Linked DNA regions of Homo sapiens. The protein of the gene in region 2 interacts with the protein of the main gene of each other region in a pairwise test. Each region holds a gene or a part of one and is shown on either strand. Other genes may lie near its edges.

Region 1 (7,023 bases), on a different chromosome or scaffold from region 2:
CTGTGCCCATAGATTTTTGGTGTCTCCAATGACCAGAATACTATCTTAGAAGACTTTAATAACACATAAGAAGACTTCTATATGTACCAAATGAAGGGAGAGTACACAAAGAATTGAAGAAACATTCAGATTTTAAAATCAGAAACAAGGATACAGCTGCCTCTAATTATTTTGTATAATTACACCGTAAGATTGAGCCTAAACTACCAGAGCTGGATGATCAATTATGTCACTAGATTTCAGATCTACGTAGACATAGTAAATACTACACAGTACACATCAAAGTTCTAACAATTAAAAAGGAGACACTAAAGAGGTTGCTGACACTAGGAAAAACAGTTCTATACACAGAGGGGACAAGAGAACAGAGATAAAGTCCTCAGATGGCTTTCCTAATCAGTGAAAGTAAAGCAATAAAGAGCAAATGTTCTTTTATTGATTACATCCTCAGACACCAAGATATCTGAAAAATGTCTGGAATTGATGAACTAATACTTATAAGGCATGAAAATTTCAAAAAAAACTTAAAACTTTGCCTTCTTGGCCACAAAAAACAGTCTAAATGAGACATTATCAAAATTTTTCATCTAGTATTCTTAAAGCTCAAAGCATACGTACCTATAAAAGATAAGCTCTTATATTTAGCATTAAATGTTTAAAATTAACATGTAATAATGTGGACTAAAAACCAATTCCTCAACTAAAGACATTTATATAACTTGAAATACTTACAGTACACTCTTGCATCTCTTGTTCCTTGGTTGCTAGTCGCATTACAAGGATGTTTTCCCTGCGTGCAGACTCCTGCTGTTGTTGCTTTAGTTTTTCTTCAGACTCTCTTAGGCCAGTTACATCATTAGCTGATGATTCAAAAAAAAATTATAAATACAATTTTAAGATCAAGTTCTAAATACCTCTGTCAAGAACAATAAGAACTAGGGTCAAAAAATTAATCAAGTCTTTAGTTTCCATCCTAACTACTTTTATAACAGGCGAATTTCTTCCTGGTCACGAGAGCTCCTTTAGGAGACAATGGTGTCATAGTGCTCCATGACTACTAACTAAATTATGTTTTTATAGTTTCATCTACTCCCAACAGAAGACAGAAAACATCTGTGTTATACAGTATTCACAAAATCCTGATTAGTATGTTTTAACCTATTTAATATAAAAATGCTGTCTGGGCACAGAGGCTCACGCCTGTAATCCCAGCACTTTGGGAGGCTGAGGCAGGTAGATCACCTGAGGTCAGGAGTTTCAGACCAGCCTAACCAACACGGTGAAACACCGTCTCTACTAAAAATACAAAATTAGCCAGTCGTGGTGATGCATGTCTGTAATCCCAGCTACTTGGGAGGCTGAGGCAGGTCAATGACTTGAACCTGGGAGGCAGAGGTTGCACTAAGCCCAGATTGTGCCACTGCACTCCAGCCTGGGCAACAGTGCGAGACCCTGTCTCAAACAAACAAATAAATAAATAAAATAGTAATAACTGCTGGACAATTTGTATTTTAAACTTGAGGCAGGATCTTATTCTGTTACCCAGGCAGGAGTCCAGTGGCACAATCAGGGCTCACTGCAGCAGCCTTGACCTCCCGGGCTCTAGTGATCCTCCTGACTCTTTTTTTTTTTGTAGAGACAAGGTCTCCCTATGTTGCCTATGCTGGTCTCAAACTCCTGGGCTCAAGTGATCTTCCCACCTTGGCCTCCCAAAGTGCTGGGATTATAGGTGTGAGCCACTGTGCCTAGCCTTAAACTTTCACAATGTTCATGACTTCTATGGGTAACACAGTCACGCAAAATTAGAATTTCAGGGTATTAACCCTTCTGAAGTTACAAAACAATATATATTGGTTTTTATACTCAACAAATAGTATGTGATTCAAACAGTAAAAAGTGAGACTAAAATGGCTTAAAATGATAAACGTTATTTTCAGCAGATTTAAAAAAATCTGTATATATTATTAAGTTATATATATTGATTTAAGCTGTCATAAATCTGTTACTGGTTGCTTCTGTTTATTTCTCTTCTAGACTAGTAACTCATGCTTCAAGTCAAATTCCTATGCAGAAGGGGTTAGGGACAAGTAAGAAAAGTTTCAAGTAGTTCTGAGTTACTGCATCTATATTCAGAACCTTGCATATAATTTTGCTAAGTCATGCCATTACATGACTATTACACCTCTGTCTTCTCCAATGACTGAGACTGTGTCTCATTCATCTTTATATTTTCTTGCACCCAACACAGTGCCTATGTACAGTTCTTATAATAAAACACGAGAAAAATTACATTTGCTTTAATAAAAACAACTATCCTTTTGATTTTAACAATCAAAAGGAGATTATTCAGTCTTTAGGAAGCTAAAACTCAAACTTACAGTTAAGATCTGTGTACTTGCCCTCCAAAGCTTGTACATATGCTTCATATTGTTTCCATCTAATAAAAAAAAATCCATACATTAGTTGTTACGATAAAATAGTTTATTAAATAAACTAGAAGATATCTATAAACTCACAGATTTTAGTAATACTGAGCATTCTTCTGGATTTTTCATTTTAAATCTAGTTTTTTTTAGACAGAGTCTCGCTCTGTCCCCCAGGCTGGAGTGCAGCGTGGCGCAAACAGGGTCTGGGCTCAAGCGATGTCCCTGCCTCAGCTTCCTGTATAGCTGGGACCAAAGGCACATGGCTCATTTTTTTGTAGAGATGGGGTCTCACTACGTTGCCCAGGCTGGTCTTGAACTCCCGAGCTCAAATGATCCTCACACCCTGGCCTCCCAAACTGCTGAAATTACAGGCCTGAGTCACCACACCCAGCCTAAATCTAGTTTAACTGATCATAAAATAGTCCCTCATTATTCCTTCCCATTTTACAGGAAACAGGTAAAAAGAGATATATAGAGAAGGTTTTTTCTGCTGAGAACATGCCAAGCATGCCCTGGGTGAGATCAAACCCCAGATTCACTTTGATATCACTGATGTTCAGGATAATCCTGGATTATAGAAGCTGAAAAAAAAATCCCACTGCTGCTTTCATATGTTGTCCACTTAGAACAAAAGGCATATTAGAAATGTGCCTCATTATGTAGAATTGAAGGTTCTTTATCTTGGCTCTTTTGGGAAAATACCATGTGACTCTTCTCAAGGTAGTATCAATTTCTGCCTGTAAACACAGGGGGAGAATATAACATTTTTCAAGACTGTAATTTAACAATCACATCTAACTGTCAGAAACCTGCATAAATGCCATATGCTATCAGAATACAAGGGGACCGTTGTTCTTCATTATACTTCTCTACCCTGAATATATACACTGCTAGGTCCTCTTAGCAATAAAGATTTTTCCTAGTCTTATTAGGCAGTTCCTAATGGAAAGCACCCTGCCCTGAATGTCTGCTATCCTGCATACTTAAGAGCCATGTTTTCAAGCTGCTCTTCAGGTACAATTAATTAAAATTTGGCTTTAGAAAACCATTTTATAATCTTAAAAACAGGCTTGTCATGAGTTATTAATATTACAACATAATGAACAAAAAGGCTCGTGCCTGTAATCCCAGCACTTTGGGAGGCCGAGGCGGGCAGATCATGAGGTCAAGAAATCAAGACCATCCTGGCCAACACAGTGAAATCCCGTCTCTACTGAAAATACAAAAAAATTAGCAGGGCATGGTGGCGCATGCCCGTAGTCCCAGCTACTTGGGAGGCTGAGGCAGGAGAACCGCTTGACCGGGAGGCGGCGGTTGCAGTGAGCCGAGATCGCGCAACTGCATTCCAGCCTGGTGACAGAGCGAGACTCTGTCTTAAAAAAAAAAAAAAGAAAGAAAAAAGAAAAAAAAAAAACCTTCCTAATACCAAACTAATCCACTTTCTATGTAAACACTGATGTTCAGCCAAGGCCATGCTTTATTTTTACGGCACTTACAACCTAAGACACGTAGTTTACCAAATATTTGGGGATGTATAGAGAAAGATCTTCAGTGGAGGCTATAAAAGAACGATTTATTTTAGAAGTACAGAAAAATATAAAAACTGAAGCAAGAACATGTATATCACAAGGATAGAAGGCACAGACTAGTTAAATAAGTAGCAGCTGGTTTAAAATCTCCAAGGGAATCAAAGAGAAAAAACTCGCCTAAAAGTCTTACATGAATTCCCTAAGGAAAGATGTTAAACTGACCTCAAGGAAATACACTGCATATGATTTAGAAACCTTAAAGGTATCTTAAAATAAAACATTTCTATGATTCTTTATTAAGATTACTGATTTTTCCCCTCCTACAGTTAAATCAAAAAAATGACTGCACAGACTAACCAGAGCAATTATGTAAGAAGGCATTAAAAAAAGTATACAATGCCAGAGACAGGGAAAAAAAAAATCATGGCCAGGCATGGTGGCCCATGCCTGTAATCCCAGCACTTTGGGAGGCCAAGGTGAGAGAATCACTTCAGGCCAGGCATTCAAGACCAGCCTGAGCAGCACCTCACCTCTATTATAATTTATATGCACATTAAAACAAACAAAAAAAAACCCAGCATTGAGTAGTAGTGTATCTTAAGTATATACTTCAGCATAAGACAGAAGTGTTTTAGAATAACAAAAATTTAAATTTTATGTGCAGAAAGACAAAGGTATGCAATGGAAACTGTCCTATGTATGAGATTATGGCAAAAAAAAAAAAAAAAAAAAAAAAAAAAAAAAAGGTAAAAAGTGTGTTCATAATACAGTAGCTGTCCAAAGGTGAAAGTAGGAAATTGTCACACTCTAGGAAACAACAAAATCTGTGTTAGCCTATCTCACAAAACATCTTTTCTCTCCTCCGCTTTCAGCCTGTTAAAATACTTATTTTATTTTTATCTAAGTTATCAAGAAACTTACTAACCATAGCAATAAAATACAGAAAGAATATATTTAAATTACAAAACACAGAACATCCTACTTCCTGATTTCTTACACAATCTAAAAAGATTATACGTTGTACTTGACAATCTGCTTTTGTAAGACATTTACAAGATAACCGCAGAAATTCAGAACTGGAAGTCACCTTTAACAATAACTTAACCCAACCTCTTCAACTTACAGATGAGAAAATGAAGAGTATGAAGTTATATGAGCTGGTGAAGGTCACACTAATAAGAAAAAGTAACCTCACTTCATTAGTAAATTATGTATTTCTTCCATAAATATAAGTGCATCTTTTAGGATTACATTTCTTTTTCAAATGTTAAACACGAAAGGAAAAACTACACAAAACAAGCCATATATTTGTTAAACTTATAGCTTCCTAGTAGTTCTTTAAAGTGTTACGTTTTCCTCGGTGTTAATATAAGAAATAGGTCATAGTATGCTCAAAAAGTACATTAAATTATTTGAGGATAGAACAACATTAAAAACAATATCTGGCACAAAGACAATTACAGTGTAGAGTCACAATATAATGTTCTATAGAAAGACTTTGTTTTTGAACAGAGAACATTTTACCTTAGAATTAACTCATCTCTTGCCATAACTTTGAAGTCTGTTTCACTCAATCGAACCTATAAAGAGAATTACAATATGAATTTAGTGTTCTTCCTGAAGACACAAAGTTCTATAATGAGACCTATGAAACATCTCCCAAGTGTGAGATTTAAACGGCTCAGTACATATTATGATTTTTTGAAAAAGTATTTTATTACAAAAGTTTTTTTTTTTTAAGGTAAACTATTTGGTATCTTAACAATGGGCATCATCATTAGGAAAATGCACATTAAAACCCCAGGTATCACCACACACTGATTAGAATGGCTAAAATAAAAATTAGTGGCAACACCAAACGCTGGTGAGGATTCAGAGAAACTGAAGTTTCCTACACTGCAGGTGAGAATATAAAAATGGTATCTGAAGAAGTATGGCAGTTCCTTTTATTAATACAACTAAAAATGAATGTGCCATATAACTCAGCAGTTGCACTCTTAAACATGTATCTCAAAGAAATGAAAACATGCAAGCAGCTTTACTTGTAAAAGCTAAAAAACTGAAAACTATCCAAATGTCCTTTAACAGGCAAATGATTGAACTATCATACAGCCACACCATGGAACACTTTAAGCAATAAAAAGAAACAGGACTACTGATACATGAAACAATTTGTATAAGCCTTAAGGAAACTGTGCTAAGTGGAAGGAAAAAAAATAGTCTCAAAAAGATGCATACTACATGATTACATTTATATAACACTCTGAAGTAACAATTATACAAATGGAGATAAATTAGTGGTTGCCAGGGGTCAGGCATGGAGAGGGACGGGGTAGATGTGGCTATAAAAGAATAACTCGATGAAGCTTTATGGTGATAGTTCAGATATGTATCTTGATTAATGATGGTTACACAAAGCTAGACATGATAATAGTGCATATAGCTCTTCCCCACTTCCCCCAATAACAGTGCTAGTATAACGTGAAATGTGAATAAGCTCTGTGGATTGTACCAATGTCAATTCCCTGATTTTCACAGTTATTAGAGATGTCTGCTAGTCACGCAAGGTGTTAACAATGAAGCAGGCTCAGTGAAAGTTGCACAGAACCTCTCTGTACATTTATTTGCAACTTCCTATGAATCTATAATTATTTCAAAACAAAAAGCTGAAAGAAGGGCATAAGCTAACATGCTTCAAAAATTGAGAAACAGTATATTCACTACACCAAATAAAGGCTGTAAAGGTGAGATACCTCTCCTACCTCAGTATAAAATTAAGGCTTTGGCTGGGCATTGTGGCTCATGCCTCCTGCACTTTGGGAGACTGAGGCGGGAGTATATCTTGAACTCGGGAGTTCAAGATCAGCCTGGGTAACATGGCAAAACCCCATCTCTACCAAAAAATACAAAAATTAGCCAGGCGTAGTGGCACACCTGTAGTCTGAGCTACTTTGGGGGGCAAAGGTGGGAGGATCGCATAAGCTGGGGTATGAGGCCACAATGAGCCAAGATTGTACCACTGCACTCCAGCATGGGCAACAGAGTGAGACTCTGTCTCAGAAAATAAA
Region 2 (7,600 bases):
CCTGTCATTCACAGCATCACTGCACCTGTCTATGTGCCCTAGGGGCAGCATTTGACTTCACAGCTGCTGACAGTTCTCCTAACCTCAACTTCTGGCCCTCTGTGGAGAACTTGCTATGAACTGTAACCTACTAAACTGCTCCTAGAAGAACTTGCTGCTCAGAGTATCCAAACCAGCAGGTGACACCTCTGCTAATAATTCACATTTGACTTTAGGTTGCATTCATTGTTTTTATTTTTGCTTTTTAAACTAACATCCTGTCCTGGTAATGTCACATGAGTGTGATGTTGATCAGGTATACCTGGGGCAGATATTCCTAGAGAGTGTGCTGCCTGGCAGAGGAAGCAATTGAGTTGGTCATTAATTTACTGGGTGGATTCCTAAATGGGGGCCTCAGAGCAACTGCTTTGGGTAACAGGGAACATCTTTGCTGTTTCTAGACCCCTGGAGAGGGCTTGGCATCCTGACAAGGAGGCCAGGATGAGCAGCTCCGTCTTTTGAATAGCTCAATCCAGCCTCAGACAGTTGAAATTAGATGTTAATCTCTGACCAGGCATAGTGGCTCACATCTATAATCCCAGCACTTTGGGAGGCCAAGGCGGGTGGATTCCCTGAGTCTAGACATTCAAGACCAGCCTGGACAACATGGCACAATCCCATCTTTATGAAAAATACAAAAATTAACCGGGCATGGTGGCATGTGCCTGTAGTCTCAGCTACTCGGGAGGCTGAGGTGGGGGTCTGGCCCCCACATCCCAGGTCTTTCTGCTACACCACACTGTTGCCATAATGACTTCGACCTCATTCTGCCATCTCCTAAGAAAGCCAGAGTGCAGGCTAGGAATGTCACCTGAGCCCAGGAACTCAAGGCTGCAATGAGTGGTGATTCCACCACTGCACTCCAGCCTGGGCGACAGAGTAAGATCTTGCCTCAAAAAACAAACAAACAGCTGGGCACGGTGGCTCACACCTGTAATCCTAGCACTTTGAAAGCTGGGGCAGGCGGATCACTTGACATTAGGGGTTCCAGACCAGCCTGGCAAACATGGAGAAACCCCGTCTCTACCAAAAAAAATATTAAAAATTAGCTGGGTGTGGTGGTGCACGCCTGTAGTCCCCAGCCACTTCAGAGGCTAAGGCAGGAGAATAGCTTGCACCCAGGAGGTGGAGGTTACAGTGAGCCGAGATCATGTCACTACACTTCAGCCTGGGTGACAAAGTGAGACTGTCTAAAAAAAAAAATACTTTTAAAAAATAATAATTTTAATAAATGCCTACATATATGCGTGTGTGTGTATATATATATATAACATTTTTTTTTGAGACAGGGTGTTGCTCTGTCACCCAGGCTAGAGTGCAGTGGCCTGACCAGGGCTCTCTGCAGCCTCGAACTTCTGGGCTTCGGTGATCCTCCCATCTCAACCTCCTGAGTAGCTGGGACCACAGATGCATGCCACCACACCCGGCTAATTAAAAAAAGAAATTTTTGTAGAGACAGGTTTTCCTATGTTGCCCAAGTTAGTCTCAAACTCTTGGGCTCAAGTGATCCTCCTGCCTTGGCCTCCCAAAGTGCTGGGATTACAGGCGGGAGCCACTGCACCTGGCCTCAAATGCCACCATATTTCTGATTCCTGTCACCTCCAGGCTCAGAGACTGTGAGTAAACATTCTGGGCAGATAATCGTTTGCAATTGCTTCCAGAGTGCTCTTTGCTGAGCTGTTAAGCTGTGGGCTAAGTGGTAAATGTCAGGTATCTCTGCTGTCGTGGGCCAGGTGCTCAGATTGCTAGGATACAGCAGGGGGTGCCGAGATGAGGCAAGGGGCCGGGTTAGGAGTCCCTGCTCTAGCACAGCGATACTAGCTGAGTCCATCGATGACCTTTAAACCCGCTTCCCCGGTTCTGTCTAGATTACAGGGTTTGGAAGGCTTTGGAAGATGTGTTCAGAGAACTTTGCCCAAACTGGCCCACGCCTGTTCCAATGCTATGCATAGCTGTTTCTGATTCTTAGCCAGCTCAGGCCCTCTATTCTTTCCATGCTGGTCTGCGGCCTCCGTTACCCACCTGCTGAGGGCGATCTTCTGGTGGAGCAGAAAGCCCCGCTCGTAGGGCCAGGGCAGGCCGGCCTCGAACCACTCTCGGCAGCGCAGCACGGGCGAGATGCAGGCGGCGCCTGTCACGTAGCTGGAGGAGCCGCACTCGCCCAGGTAGGACAGGAGCAGCGCCGAGCCCGAGCCTTCGCTCACCGCGAACAGCGGCGCCGCCGGGTGTCGGAAGCGGATGTATGTGACCGCCTCCTTGAGGTCGGACGGGTCCCCGAAAGGCTGCAGCCGGGGGCTGACCAGTGGGCAACCGTGGTGGCCGCGGCGATGGAAGATGACCGGGTAGTAGCCGCGCTCCAGGGCGAGCAAGCAAAGGCCGAGCACGTTGCGGGTGAGGCGACCCCACGCATTGGGGATCACCAGAAGCACCGCAGGAAGGCCCCCGGCGCTGGTGATCCGGCGGCCCCGAACACAAGGTCCTACCACCCAGTCCAGGGCCACTAGCCCATCGTCCGCCAACTGCAGGTACTCCCGGGCCAGCTCAGGCCCAGGCGCTACGGGCAGGACGAAGTGGCAGAGGGTCTGCAGGTGGGGCCCGGAGAACCAGGAGCGCGGGCCGGCCTCCAGCGCCTCTGAGCGCCGCAGGGCGCGCAGCAGGCACTGGGCCAGGGCCGACGGCTTGCAAACAAGGCTGCACCCTCCCGGCAGTGGCTCGCGCCCGTCGCTGAACTGGTCCGCCGGGCCTCCGCCGTCCGCCTCCTCCCCGTCGTCTCGGTCTTGGGCCCCCGGCAGGGTCCTCTCTCCGACGGCGCGCCCCCAGGGTCCCCGGAGCCGCGGGCCGAGCAGGCCGAGAAGGGCGAGCACGGCCAAGATGAGCGCGAGGGCGGCGCCCCACGGCGGCATGGCGAAGCTGGAGAGCCCCGGCGGGCAGCGGGCGGCGGGGCCGTCTACTCGGCGAGCTCCGCGCTTTGCCCGCGGCTCCGCCCGCCGGCGGCGGCTGCCCAGGGCCCTCCCGCGCGGGCGCGCTCTGGATTGGCCGTGGCCGGGCAGAGGCAGCCAGTTCGGGCCCGGCTGCCCTCGCCCGCCCCCCACCCCCGCCCCGGCCCTTTGTACAGCAATTGCAACAAGTGGGAGCAGAGGGTGAGAGGAGCCGGGGCCACCAGGGAGGGAGGGCGCGCCGGCAGCCGGAAGGGAGTGGGGAGGGCACGAGCCGGGGAGAGCGGTGTTGGCCATGGAGACGTGGGGAGACTGGAGGCCGAGGCTTGGGGACCCGACTGTCATCAGGGTCTTCCGCCAGACCCTGGGCGCTGCGCCCTCAGAGGCCGATGAAAAGAAGCAGAAGGGAGAGGTGAGTAAGTCGCAGCTCCGGGCGCCGGCTCCCGGGACCCCGTGGGGCGGCGGCCGCGCGCGCGCTCTGCCCTCGGGCGGCCCTGCTCTCCCCCGCCCGGCCCCGCAACCCCGCAATAACTTGGCTGGGCGGGGTCCGGCACTGGGCTAGAGAGGTCGAGCGCGGCGTCTTGAGCCGCTGGCGGGAGGCTGCTGCTTCCCCGCCTGCATCAGTGCGGGTCCCGTGGACTCCTCGCCCCCGTCCCCGCGAGCTCGGGGCTCCACATCAAGGAAATCCTCAGCCCGGGAGTGGCTTCCCCAGAAACAGCAGCCCCAAGCCTCCGAGAGTCAGTCGGAGAAAAGGACACACTCAGGCGCCCTGCGACAGGGATGCCCGTCCGACCTACAAGGAACGCCTCGTAAACCGGGGTGCATGGGAGACCACGGAAATAACACGTTCTCGCTGTTTCCAAGCTTTGGGATAGGCATCTCGACCCTCGCTCTCTACCCACGTTTCCCCCCCAAATCCTGGAGAGGGAACCAGAACCAGCGCCCCGCTGCGGGGCGGGCCGGCCAGCGCACCTCCTGGGGGTGAGGCCTGTGGCGTCCCCATCTCGCGGCGACCAATCTCTTTCTAGACGCGCGCCTGCCACCGCTGGGCGACGGCGGAGGTGGGGAAGACAGCAGCCTCTCGGCTAGCTCCGGCCTCCCGGGGCTTCTGGGTTTGGAGAGTTTGGGGAGCGGAGACACCTCCCGAGGCTCCTCCGCGTTGGACCCTATTTGCGAGGGCGGGAGCGGGGTGGGCCGACGGCGAAGCTCCAGAGGTGGGACCCTCTCCCTTCAGCAGCTCTTCCTGACTTCATGATTCTGCCCCTCTTCTCATTGCAGGTCACACCGACAAATCTGAAGCGGGTTTGCCAGGGGAGTGTACCCGTCTCCCCAGCCTGGGCCACCCGGTCCACAGGGATTCCATTTCCGGCCTTACACTCCGCTCCACGATCTCATCCAGGCGCTGCAGCTGTGCAGCTGCTCTACAGACTGCAGGGACCTGCTGAGACGAATCCCCGGACGAGGAAAGGGGCCCCCCGCCTGCCCTACTGAGCCTTGCGCGCTGACCCGGTTCCTACACTTAACTTTTCCGGCTTCGGGTTTAAGACGCGTGCGCGCACACTCCGCTGCTGTGGGCGGGCATTGGGGCGGGGCGATACCGGGGGCCCACTGTCTGGGGAGGGGCGCGCGCGAGCCCAGGGCCAACGGACGCGCGGGCGGCGCGGGCGGCGCGGGGGCGCTGGGGCTGGAGGGGCGGGGCGCGCGCGCTCCCTCGCTGGCGGAGCGGCTGGGCGGCGGGCCGGGCCCGGGGCCGCTTGGAATGGCGCCTCCTCCGCCTTCGCCCCAACTGCTTCTCCTGGCAGCCCTCGCGAGGCTCCTGGGTCCCAGCGAGGTAAGGTGACCCGCTCCTGGGAAGGCCTCGGCCCGCGAGCTCAAAGCGCTTTGCCAAAAGTTCGTCCTGGAAGGAGTGGCGCGCCGAGGGGGACGCGGAGTTCTTCCGCTGGCGGGCTGGGCCTGGGGAGAGAGAGGGCAGGGCCTCGCCGCGTCCAGCGCCCCAACTCTTCGCTTTGGACCCACAGGTGATGGCTGGACCGGCGGAGGAGGCGGGAGCCCATTGTCCCGAGAGCCTGTGGCCTCTGCCTCCGCAGGTAGGAGCCCTGGAGGGCCCAGGGAGAGAGGGATGTGAAAGGCTAGCCCAGTCCCGCTCTGTTCTCGCCGCACCCTCCACAGTCACCATCTGAGGACCTCTGCCGGTTCCTCAGTCCTCAGTAGCCAACTTCTCCATCCCAGCCTGGCGCTTGGGGCCTGCCGTCCCCTCCCCACCACACACACACGGAGTCCCCCAACTGCCCTAAGCTCTGTTCTTTCCCCATGTATAGGTGTCACCAAGAGTGACCTACACACGAGTGAGCCCAGGGCAGGTGAGTACAAGCAGGGGCCCACCACCCTTGGTGTCCACGCCTGGAGACAGGCGCTCCTAGCAGGCTTCGCTGCCTGTTCTGCTGATCGGCCCCATTCCTTACCACTTCCCTCAGGCAGAGGCAGGGTTCTAGTTCTCTGCCCCACCTCCAAGCCCAGGACAGATCAGCCCCAGGACAGATGGCTCAAAGACAGTGAGCCATAGGCCTGTCATCTGCAATGCTGTGTCAGGATGCTGTTGGGTAGCTGGCTCTGTGGACAAGTGGCTGTGAGTGGAACTCTCTCTGAGAGTAGCTGGAAAAAACCCAGGCTCCAGCTCCCTGAGGAGACAGCGGGAAGTCTCCTGACTTTGTGGGCCCCAGCTTTCTGTAGGAGAGGGTATTAATTCTGTCTCTACCTGTGAGCAGCGAGGGAGGGTATGTGCCAGCACCGTGTACAGTACAGAGCTGCATCGTGCAAGGAGTGTGCCTCCAGTTGCCAGGCTCCACACTGCGGGCTCAGCTTGCGTGGTAGCATCTCCATCTTCATCGCCAGCTCCTCTGAATTTTCCTTTGAAATACTTATTATTATTATTATTTGAAATGGAATCTCACTCTGTTGCCCAGGCTGGAGTGCAGTGGCACTCACTGCAACCTCTGCCTCCAGGTTCAAGCAATTCTTATGCCACAGCCTCCCGAGCAGCTGGGATTACAGGCGTGTGCCACCTAGCTTAGCTAATTTTGTATTTTTAGTAGAGACGAGGTTTCACCATGTTGCCCACGCTGGTCTTGAGCTCCTGACCTCAAGTGATCTGCCTGCCTCAGCCTCCCAAGTGCTGGGATTACAGGTGTGAGCCACCATGCCTGGCCTGAAATACCTAACTTAAATTGGCCAGGCATGGTGGCTCACACCTGTAATCCCAGTACTTTAGGAGGCTGAGGCGGGTGGAACACCTGAGGTCAGGAGTTCAAGACCAGCTTGGCCAACATGGTGAAACCCTGTCTCTACTAAAAATACAAAAATTAGCTGGGCGTGGTGGCACACCCCTGTAATCCCAGCTACTTGGGAGGCTGAGGCAGGAGAATTGCTTGAGCCCAGGAGGCAGAGGTTGCAGTGAGCCGAGACCATGCCACTGCACTCCAGCCTGGCGACAGAGCGAGACTGTCTCAAAAAAAAAAAAAAATTCTCTGTAATAGCTCCAGGCCAAGAGTTGTTGCCTCACGCCACCTATCAGATTCCTTTCCTCAAACAGCCCTTTCATGAAGTCATTCCTCTGTTCACAAACTGTCAATGGCTCCTTATTTCCCACCTTATCGTGGCCATATTCTCCGGCCTGGCTTTTCAGGCCTTACTTAAGTAAGCTTCGTCTGACCTCTCCACATCCTTGGTTCCTCTCCAGTTGTGTCGGGCTGTTTGCCACACAAATGAGTGCCAGCCTCGCCCTTACCACAGCCCCTTTGCTCCTGTTTATTCTCCTCCACACCTGGCCTATCCTGACTCGGAGAGTGCAGCTCCCTGCCCTCCTGCCATACTCCCCCAGCCATCTTCCCAGTCCCAGCTGGCATCAGCTCCCCCTGAGACACTGCCCGATGGCATCAGCCTTTATTCCTCCCCTCCTCCTCTGAATCTATCTCTGATAATTTAACAACTAATCACTAAGTTTTATTAGTTTGCTGTTTTATTTGCATTAGTTGTTTCCCTGAGTTTCTCACACACTCCTTGCAAGCAGAGTCCAGGAGTTCTTTGGCATCTCCCACAGCATCTAGCACAGCACTGAGCACCAAGTCAACTCAATCAAAGAATAATGAATGATTGATGGAGTATTTCCATCCTGAGATTGTGCACCTGCTGCCTGCCTGCCCTGTATTTGGATGCTCTTGGGAGACTGTATAGATTGGATCGATGGTCTTCATTTGGGGGTTGCTTATGGCTTGGATTGTGGACCTGTAGAGCCATCGTTACACCTGCAGGGAAATATGGCTAGAGTGTGGTCTGAGTCTGGCAGGATTATCCAGGCATGCTGTGAGCTTTGAAGGGTGGCACTTGATGGAGAGGAAGGGTGAAAGGAACACTCAGAGGCAAGAGTGGGTACATGCCAATACCCAGGGCCCTTTGTCCTTTCCTGGGCCCTGAAGGTAGAAGAGCCATCCAGCTATCCTGGGAGTACCTTTAAACTGGTCCCCTGGATGGGAGAACTTGAGATTCTCTGGGAGGGCTCTGGGCCTGCTTTGATGTCTCTGTGCCTTTCCTCCAGGCTGAGGATGTCACCTTCCTCTACCACCCCTGTG

The links.
Region 1: the proteins of ABHD15 (region 2) and WTAP interact in binary tests that used the Homo sapiens proteins (3 or more experiments, as listed by UniProt).

What each region holds. Positions count from the first base shown.
Region 1 is NC_000006.12:159,737,502-159,744,524, reverse strand, and holds part of WTAP (pre-mRNA-splicing regulator WTAP), read right to left. Parts: intron 5,536-7,023; coding exon 5,480-5,535; intron 4,667-5,479; exon of another isoform or gene 3,083-4,666; coding exon of another isoform or gene 3,078-3,082; intron 2,438-3,077; coding exon 2,379-2,437; intron 861-2,378; coding exon 733-860; intron 1-732. UniProt on the Homo sapiens protein: Associated component of the WMM complex, a complex that mediates N6-methyladenosine (m6A) methylation of RNAs, a modification that plays a role in the efficiency of mRNA splicing and RNA processing.
Region 2 is NC_000017.11:29,564,025-29,571,624, forward strand, and holds the start of ABHD15 (protein ABHD15 precursor), read right to left. Parts: upstream 3,014-7,600; 5' UTR 2,943-3,013; coding exon 2,062-2,942; intron 1-2,061. Other genes in the region: TP53I13 (tumor protein p53-inducible protein 13), read left to right, coding at 4,735-4,806, 4,994-5,062, 5,294-5,335, 7,567-7,600. UniProt on the Homo sapiens protein: May regulate adipocyte lipolysis and liver lipid accumulation.